Homo sapiens: one gene and its partners. The protein of the gene in region 1 purifies or fractionates together with the protein of each later gene. This does not show direct contact. Each region holds a gene or a part of one and is shown in the gene's direction. Other genes may lie near its edges.

Region 1 (2,891 bases):
GGCTCTTTGGAGTGGGTAAGGGAACTAAGTCCATCCCTTGGGTTCTCCCGTGGGCCACCCATGCTGATATAATGTTAATAATAACTTTATATTTGGGTACTGAATGCTGATCCCTATAGTTAATGTGGTGGATTGACTAGTATTGCTGGCTCCGTGGTAGCCAGGATGGATGCCCTTTTGTTTTTTAGCAGTTCTCTAGGGGAACTAGCCTATTGTTTTCTGTAAACAGCACATATCATGAAGCGGCCTCTTTGGGAAATTGATGTTATCGTCTGTGTACTGTATGATTGATGTGACTCAGTGATTGTTGTTCTTCCTTTGGCTGCTAGGCCTCCTGCCCTTGGGGGGTACTTTGAACCAGATACCTCCCTCTTCTGTCTTCCAGGCCCGATTTCCCGCCAACCACTCGGGGCGACCTCGGGTGCCTCGCTGAAGACACAGCCAAGCTCCCAACCGCTCCAGAGCGGCCAAGTGCTCCCCTCTGCTACACCCACTCCATCTGCACCCCCCACCTCCCAGCAAGAGCTTCAGGCCAAAATCCTCAGCCTCTTCAATAGTGGCACAGTGACGGCCAATAGCAGCTCTGCATCCCCCTCGGTTGCTGCCGGAAACACCCCAAACCAGAATTTTTCCACAGCAGCAAACAGCCAGCCTCAACAAAGATCACAGGCTTCTGGCAATCAGCCTCCAAGCATTTTGGGACAGGGAGGATCTGCTCAGAACATGGGCCCCAGACCTGGGGCTCCTTCCCAAGGGCTTTTTGGCCAGCCTTCCAGTCGCCTGGCACCTGCTAGCAACATGACTAGCCAGAGGCCTGTGTCTTCCACAGGTATCAACTTTGACAATCCAAGTGTACAGAAGGCTCTGGATACCCTGATCCAGAGTGGCCCTGCTCTCTCCCACCTGGTTAGCCAGACCACAGCACAGATGGGGCAGCCACAGGCCCCCATGGGATCTTACCAGAGGCATTACTGAAGCTAAATCTTTCAACTCTCCCCAGTCCCCTCATCCCCTGGCCTCCTCCCACTTACTTGTTCTAAATAGAGCTGTTTGGAGGATGTTCTCTGCGCTCCCAGGCCGGCATCGAGTGTCATCAATTTCTACCACCTGCTCTCTCTTCTGCCCAAGGCTGTGTTGCTTATTCCTTACAAAGTTTATACTGCATTTGGGGCTGTATCTTTTTTTGTTTTTTGTTTTGTAGAAAATAAATATCTCCGGGGGCAGTACAGGTGTCTGGGCTTGTATTTGATGGGGTTTCTCCGGTCCCTGTTTCTACTGGATTTGGAGCCAGGCCCAGCTAGCCAAGTTTGGAATGGCATTTGTCATGTCAGTAGCCACCACCTTTGTTCATTGTGAACCTACCAAGGCTTTCCAGCTTCATACACATTGACCAGAGCTCAAGCTCCTGCCTGCAACTCCTGCCTAGAGTTGAAGAAAAGCAAACTGGCCTTGGCAGGCACAGTGTCATCATACCCTCACCCCATATGTTTGGGGTCTGCTTGAGGATTCATAAATCAGCCACTCTGGATTGTTGAGGAATGGCCATGGCAGCCACAGAAAAAAGAATTTTTCTCTCTGAGCCAAGGTTGTTTTTTGTTTTTTTCTCTTTTCTTTTTTGTTTTCATTTCATTGGAAGATCTCCAATGGACTGAACAGCTCCAGTCAGCAGCAGTTACCACAAACTGTGAATCTGGGCCCCACCACTCTTCCCTGTTAACCAGTTCTGTCAGCATCCCCCTCTCCAGCAGCACTTCCATGAAGTTGGTTCTGAGACTCTGGCCGTGAACACCCGTTTCTTCAGTGATTTGTTTTGGGCTTTTGGCTCAAAACCCCAGGCTCTTGTTTTTGTCTAGACTCTTATTCTGTTTCCTGAGCAGCAGGAGGTAGGGACCACTTTGATGTCAGACTTCTGGTAGCTGGACATGTTCTCGAGATGGGTGGCTGTTCGCGACTTTTGTACCAGAGTGAAATTGTTAGAAGGAGGGTTTCTGGCTGTGGTTCTAAATGGAGCCCCAGGAAGCTGCCCTCTCCCCAGGGTTTGTGCTCAGTAGAGCCCTGTGGATCACAGTCTTGAGGTCCTCTAGCAGGGGTGAGGGAGAGCAGCGACTTCAGCTGAGTCCCTGCCAGTGGTTAAGCAAACAATGGTTTCAAAATTCAAGGTCCCCAAATGGCAGCATTTTATGTTCTGACCTGTTTGTGTTATATAGTGGTTTTTTTTTTCCTCTTTGGAACTCTTGTGTTGTTAATAAAATGAAATGATTACTTTTTAATTAAAATGAAAAAAGTAAAAGCTTTGTTCATCTTTTTTGGGTGTGAATATGCTCTTTGCAGGATGCTTTCCCCAAGTCAGAGGTGAGGGCTCCTGTCTCGAGGACTCTGGTCTGCCCCCTTTTGTCCTCAGCATATGATCCGGCCTCAAACCTCTTTGAACCCTGCCTTCTCTTCATAGGTAGCTCACTTAGAGGCTTTAATAACAGTTCAGAGCAAAGGCCTGTTGGCTAATTATAGTGCTGTGTTCAACATCCTGCTTCTGGTAGACATTCATTGTGTCAGCAGCCTTGTCCTCTTATTCTAGGAAAGGAAAACAGGATGTGAGGAGGCCATTTGTGGTTAATGGCCATTGGTAGGGGGGCACTTCCTGTTTTCATTTTGTCTCAGTTGCCACCCTCTGTTCTACCCATTGTGCAGGGAGTTGGCAGAATTCATAGAACCTGAAGGAGCCTTGAAGAGCATTTAATAACTTGGGGTGGGTGTGGTGAAGTGGGTGGCACAGGCCTCCAGTGAGTTAGGGACCAACGTGCCAAGAGCACTGAGCCTCACCAGTTAAGTGTTCACTGCCTCCTGGGGGTATCAGTGCAGCCTGACACCTACACTTAGAAAGTGCTCACTAC
Region 2 (3,461 bases), on another chromosome or scaffold:
CTTTTTAAATAGGGGACATCCTGAAGTTCTTGAAAAAGAAGAAACCTGAAGATGCCTTCTGTGTTGTGGGAATAACAATGATTGATCTTTACCCAAGAGACTCGTGGAATTTTGTCTTTGGACAGGCCTCTTTGACAGATGGTATTCCGTTTTTGGCATTGTTGTTAGAAGCTTCTTCAGCTTGAGAATATTTGAAGATGTTAGAAGAGGGAAAAAATTCCAACCAAGAATCATATTGATATTTAAAATATTTTCAGTTGAGACATTATGCCATAATGGGAAGTGTGCTGTTGGTAGATTGTGATAATCTAGGTTCTGGTTGGCCACTCACTACCTACAGGACCTTAAAGGTAACAATACCCACATCATGGAGTCATTTGGAGATAATTTACATAAAAGTGCCTGTACATAAAAAGTGTGGATAAGCCTGGACAACATAGACCACATGTCTACAAAAAAATAAAAATTTAAAAAACTAAATTAGCTGGGCATGGTGGCACATACCTGTAGTCCTAGCTACGCAGGAGGCTGAGGTGAGAGGATTGCTTGAGCCCAGGAGGTTGAGGCTGCAGTGAGCCATGATCGAGCCACTGCACTCCAGCCTGGGCAATAAAGTGAGACCGTGTCTCAAAAAAAAAATGTATATATAGGCCTGGCATATATATAGGCATACAGCATAACAGCTAGTAAATGTCAGTAATTCAGTAGCAAGGTGAATTAAACCAATTACAGTTTGAGCTATCAATGGATGTGAAAATCTTGCTAATTATTTTTCAATTCTTTTCATAGTCATCTTGCACAGTTAGAATAGCCATAGACTAAGTGTATGCTTCTTTCTCATCATACGACATTTGTTTTTTAATTTAAAGAGTCAAAACGTCCATCTTTGATTTGAGATATGTAATAAACCTTGACTCATTAGGAACTCTGTATGGTAATATTAGGGATGGGAAAGGTTCTGCAAACCGGTCATATTTTTAACCTTTTTTTTTTTTTGTCATCTCTCTACTTCTCCCCTCCCCTTAATTATTGTTCTTATTTCTCTAACTTCATCCCTAAGAATCCAACACAGACTTGAAAGGGAAAAGGCCCCCTAAGGGGAGTGGTTCATTAGTGTTCTGGGGATGGGGAGTAAGTACAGGGACTATCCTGAGAGTTTATGGTCTGTCTGGATGTTACATTAGCCTTAGGATTTGTGTGGGGTGGTAAGCTTTTTGGGACAAATGTTTCTACTAGAGGTGGGGGCTGTAGGGTTATAGAGCCTCTTCCCACTTACTCCTTTATTCTTTATTCTCCATTTATGTGAGGTTTCTTGTGGCCCCCATGGCCCTACCAGCATGCACTCTTGGAGACGTGGGTCACTACTTTCTTACTGATTTTGGTGGTGTGAGGTAGCTTTTTATCATAAGTTTTCTCTTTTATTATTAACCTGATAGAGATGGAAACATTGAAAAATAATTCTATCTACCTTTTATTTTTCTTTTGAGACAGAGTCTCCCTCTGTCACCCAGGCTGGAGTGCAGTGGTGTGATCATGGCTCACTGCAACCTCAACCTCCTGGGCTAAAGGGATCATCCTGCCTCAGCCTCCCGAGTAGCTGGGACCACAGGACCACCACACCCGGCTATTTTATTTTATTTTATTTTTGGCCAGATGGGATTTTTTTTGGCCAGATGGGATCTCCCTGTGTTGGTCAAGCTCATCTTGAAGTCCTGGGCTCAAGCGAGCCTCCCATCTCAGCCTCCCAAAGTGCTTTGATTACAGGTGTGAGTCACCACACCCAGCTAAAAAAATAATTTTAAAACCATATGTTCGTTTATCTAGATATTGCTAGCTAACTTATCTTATGTGTTTGAGGAGGTCAGGAAACATTTCCCCAAACTGTATTTACTTTAATTCTTTTTTTGGTAAGTTTCTTAAATATTACATGACATAAAAGATTTACATAGGAAAGTAGCAGGATTAGACAGTGACAATATCTTAACACAGTGGTCTTGTTTTCTCCGAGTTTACAAAGATTGATATTTTTAAAGTGAGACGCATTGACTACGAAAAAAATAGTCTATTTGTAGGATTATTGGAAGAAGGAAATGTCCTTGCTGAAAGTAGTGAAATATGCTCACACTTGATTGGCCAGAGGGGGTTACTTGTGATAAAGGAATAGATTTAGTGTGCTCTTAATTTCCAGAATGCTATCTTTGCTTAATTTTCAAATATCAGTCTACATTTTCTGGGTAAAGGGAGGTGAGGAAGTTTGTTTTTGAATCAAATTAGATTGGACAAATCTACTATGGGTTTATTACTTTAAAAACTGAACGAGAGACATAAATAAAAGTGATCATGTAAACAAGTCGAATTATGAAGCAGTACCCTGTAGGGTGAGTTATGTAGCAAACCGTGTTCTCTGTGCTTGCAGAGATGGTTGATATAACTCTAAATGTAACACAGGAAGTCAGTTACAAGGGTATTTATTCTGGTCACCAGACACTAGTGACAGAATAGAGTTGAGCTGTTCTTTGAAAAGGGGGTAGGGTTGGGGAAGGGGACGAGGTTATTCTGTCAAAAGCCGTGGTTTAAAGCATGGGCTTCAAGACATCAGGGGCAGTTGTCCTCAGTCAGTGCTGCGTGAGGGAAGGCCAGCAACCCCTCCAGACACACGTGTAACAGATCTGTTTAGTGTGTCCTTAAATAGTGAAATCATGACTTCCTATTGTTCATGTGATTTTTTTTTTTTTGAGACTGAGTATCACTCTATCGTCAGGCTGGAGTGCAATGGTGCGATCTTGGCTCACTGCAACTCCGCCTCATGGGTTCAAGCCATTCTCCCGCCTCAGCCTCCCTAGTAGCTGGGATTACAGGCACCTACCATCATGCCTGGCTAATTTTTTTTAGAGACAGGGTTTCACCATGTTAGCCAGGCTGGTCTTGAGCTTCTGACATCAGGTGATCCACCTGCCTCGGCCTCCCAAAGTCCTAGGATTACAATCGTGAGCCACCACGCCCAACCCATGTGGTTATTTTTTATGATTCCTTTTTGAGTACTTGATTTGGAGTACTTGCTACTTTCAGAAAAAGACTTCTTTTGTGGGAAAAGACTCTCTGAAACTTCAGTTTCTCAAGCATTTGACCTCAAGTCCATTAAGTTTTACAAGGCAAGGCAAAGTGGATAGCAGCAAAAGATTTTGATAGGGAAATCTGGGGCAAAAGTCTTCCTTTTTGGTGGCAAACCATAAGTGTATCAGATGGTGTGGACACAGTGACACAGAGATGCACTCACTGGCCAGATGGGCCAGCAGTCTCTTCTTTCTTTGGTCTTTCTTCAGGGACCTTACTCTCATTCTGTCACTGTTTGTCCTTTTTTTGTAGGTGTGGGGATATTCAGCTTTGCCAGGTATGGCAGTGATTTTTATAGCATGCACTATAAAGGCAAAGTGAAGAAGCTCAAGAAAACATCTTCAAGT
Region 3 (3,655 bases), on another chromosome or scaffold:
CGGAGGTGTTGACAGCAATCTAGCCACGCGGATGTGGTGTGTTTCAGGAAGTCCTAAGAAGTCGTGTTTTCTTCTGTGTCCAAAGCTTAACTAAATGAGGTCTTAGGAATGACAATGTGAATAAACAGTTTTAAAACAACAACGAAATGAAATCACCAAGAAGCGTGGCTTACTTTTACACTGGAATCCAGCACCAGCCCTTCATCATGAAAGGTTCTAAAAGACACCCTGTGTGATCGGGTCTCTGCTGGTTTTAAGGGAGTTGTCTCTCGGCGAGGCCTCGCTATAGACTGCTGATGAGTTTGAAGACACCCTGTGCGGTCGGGTCTCCGCTGCGTTTAAGCGAGCTGTCCTCGCTGTCTCTCGGTGCTGATGAGTTTGCACTTGTGTGTTTCTTTCTTCTCTCAATCCAGGTCTGGTCTTTAGAGCAGCCCGAATGGCACTGCAAAATAGACGAGGGCTCAGCCGGGCTGGTGGCCTCGTGCTGGAGCCCGGACGGGCGCCACATTCTCAACACCACGGAATTCCATGTAAGTGTCAGCCCCAAGACACCTTACTGGCCATGTGATCCTGTCCTCTGCTCTCGAAACAGCTGGGGAGTGCGAGAGGGGGTGTGTTTGGAGTATGCTAGTCTCCCCTTATCCTCAGGGGATGCATTCTAAGACCACCAGGGGATTCAGATTGTACCAAACCCTGTATTTCCTGTGTTTTTTCCTATACAGCATACCTGTGATACATTTAATTTATAAATTAGATACAGTAAGAGATTAGCAACAATCATAGTATAGAACAAGGATAACAATATACTGTTTATAATTGCATGGATAGAAGATTTGGTCTTACTGAAGATCTGAGCAACAACCTCAGCATAGGATTTTTTCTTTCCTTGTTGCGTCAAGAACTTTCAGCTCGTCATTTAAAGGAAGCACTTTGTGGCTTCTCTTTGGCGTATCCAGATTGCGAGCCCCACCGCCCGTGCTTTGGGCTGCTACTGAGTCAGATAAGGGTGTCGTGAACACAGGCACTGTCTGCTGCCCTGGGTCTGATGACTGAGGTGGCTCCCGAGTGGCTGGTAGATTGGCGGGGTTGGAGGGAGCCGGGGAGCGTATATAGTGGTGTGTATATTTTAGGTCAGAGCATTATAAGCCACTAAGTATTATTGTCTGATCTTTTGTCCAGTTTTGAAGAAAAAACATTTTAAAAATCTTAATTTAGATTTTTTAGGATTTCGGCACTCCCTTTAATTCAACGATAGAAAATGCGCTGTGATATGAGCCGGCTCGCACCTTTCCTTCAGGAGCCTGGCCTGGGGGCGTGGCTCGGGGCGGTCGGCAGCCGCCCATTCACCTGCTGTAGGTACCGCACAACAGCCTCCGTGCTGAGCTCAGCGCGGAGGGGAATGTTGACATCCGAGAATAAATCAGAGGGATCTGGGATAGGAGACTGCATTTTAAGTTAAAATTAGGCATATGTCAAGTGTTTAGATACCAGGTCTTTGGTGTCCGCAGTGTCTTTTTAAGATACAGAAAAATGGACGAATTCCTTTAATAATGTGCTTTTCTGATGGAGTTGGATCCCAGTGTTTGGGCCCAAGTCCACTGAGTGCTCATAGCTGTCTGGGCTGCTGGCTGCACCTCGGTAACCCGCCCATCCCGCTGCGCCGCGCACACCACGGGGCAACCCGCCCATCCCGCTGCGCCGCGCACACCACGGGGCAACCCGCCCGTCCCGCTGCACGGCGCACACCACGGGGCAACCCGCCCGTCCCGCTGCGCCGCGCACACCACGGGGCAACCCGCCCGTCCCGCTGCGCCACGCACACCACGGGGCAACCCGCCCATCCCGCTGCGCCGCTCACACCACACTGCAGCCCTCCCGTCCCGCTGCGCCGCGCACACCACGTAGATGATGGCACCTGGGAGGATTTCTCCCAGCGTGTGGCTGCAGATGCTCTGTAGGGTTTCATTCGGCTTTTTTCAAGCTGGCATCGGCTGGGATAAAGTTTTATCCAGCCATGAGGGTTGCTGAATCAACTGCTTCAGATGGCTGGATGGCTTTACATATTTTTCAGTTTCGATTTTAAAAAATACTCCAAATCTAATGTCTGCTATTATGGGCTGTCAGAGAATAAGACAGGAAACAAAGGCCCACCAATGTCTCCGCACTATGTATTGACATTGGAAGGCACTTTCGGCCTGAGTGTTTCAGAGAGGATAATTTGAGCTTTTCACGCAGCCGTGTCTAACAGTCTTCAGGCCTGTAATGCTTTGGGCCCAAATCTGCCCTTGAGAAGGGCTCATGTCATGGGGTCAGCCTTGTTGTATTATCTTATTAAATGGCCCAGAAGGAAAACTACCATCTATAGAGTTTAGAAACCTTAAAAGATGGATAAAAGCCTGGTTTTGTTGAGCATCCCATGTCACACACACCAATATTGAAAACACCTTTGCTACAGAACAAACTGATTTTTCATAGAGTACATTTAGATGACATTGTTCAACCTAAGACTAAGGTCATGACCACTTTGCTGGTGGCCTTAGAGGAAACGTTAAGACCAGGTGGTGGATGAGGACCGGTAACCTCAAGGCATGGGGCATCTTGACCAAGATGTCAAAATGTGTCTCCAGCTTTGCATGCGAACTTTAATGGTTGCAAGTGAGGAAACAAAACCGGAATTCCAGACGTGCTGGCCAGGAAGTGAGCTGCGGGCACCGTCCATCAGTCTCATTCACAAGAGCAAGGACCAGACCCGTTCGAGGATTAGCGGGGCCACTAGGTCCCCTTCTGAAGGCGCGACCCCATGTCCGGGGCTCAGCGGGGCCACTGGATCCCCTTCCGAAGGCGCGACCCCATGTCCGGGGCTCAGCGGGGCCGCTGGGTCCCCTTCCGAAGGCGCGACCCCATGTCCGGGGCTCAGCGGGGCCGCTGGGTCCCCTTCCGAAGGCGCGACCCCATGTCCGGGGCTCAGCGGGGCCGCTGGGTCCCCTTCCGAAGGCGCGACCCCATGTCCGGGGCTCAGCGGGGCCGCTGGGTCCCCTTCCGAAGGCGCGACCCCATGTCCGGGGCTCAGCGGGGCCGCTGGGTCCCCTTCCGAAGGCGCGACCCCATGTCCGGGGCTCAGCGGGGCCGCTGGGTCCCCTTCCGAAGGCGCGACCCCATGTCCGGGGCTCAGCGGGGCCGCTGGGTCCCCTTCCGAAGGCGCGACCCCATGTCCGGGGCTCAGCGGGGCCGCTGGGTCCCCTTCCGAAGGCGCGACCCCATGTCCGGGGCTCAGCGGGGCCGCTGGGTCCCCTTCCGAAGGCGCGACCCCATGTCCGGGGCTCAGCGGGGCCGCTGGGTCCCCTTCCGAAGGCGCGACCCCATGTCCGGGGCTCAGCGGGGCCGCTGGGTCCCCTTCCGAAGGCGCGACCCCATGTCCGGGGCTCAGCGGGGCCGCTGGGTCCCCTTCCGAAGGCGCGACCCCATGTCCGGGGCTCAGCGGGGCCGCTGGGTCCCCTTCCGAAGGCGCGACCCCATGTCCGGGGCTCAGCGGGGCCGCTGGGTCCCCTTCCGAAGGCGCGACCCCATGTCCGGGGCTCAGCGGGGCCGCTGGGTCCCCTTCCGAAGGCGCGACCCCATTTCGGGGGTTAGTGGGGCCGCTGAGTCCACTTGCGAA

Evidence for each region.
Region 2: the proteins of NCOA5 (region 1) and AMZ2 purify together in Homo sapiens (affinity purification with mass spectrometry, with the first as the bait; one large-scale study listed by BioGRID). This does not show direct contact.
Region 3: the proteins of NCOA5 (region 1) and WRAP73 purify together in Homo sapiens (co-immunoprecipitation; one study listed by IntAct). This does not show direct contact.

The regions. Positions count from the first base shown.
Region 1 is NC_000020.11:46,060,384-46,063,274, reverse strand, and holds the end of NCOA5 (nuclear receptor coactivator 5), read left to right. Parts: intron 1-385; coding exon 386-975; 3' UTR 976-2,284; downstream 2,285-2,891. UniProt on the Homo sapiens protein: Nuclear receptor coregulator that can have both coactivator and corepressor functions.
Region 2 is NC_000017.11:68,251,038-68,254,498, forward strand, and holds part of AMZ2 (archaemetzincin-2), read left to right. Parts: intron 1-12; coding exon 13-141; exon of another isoform or gene 142-350; intron 351-3,366; coding exon 3,367-3,461. UniProt on the Homo sapiens protein: Probable zinc metalloprotease.
Region 3 is NC_000001.11:3,643,541-3,647,195, reverse strand, and holds part of WRAP73 (WD repeat-containing protein WRAP73), read left to right. Parts: intron 1-413; coding exon 414-530; intron 531-3,655.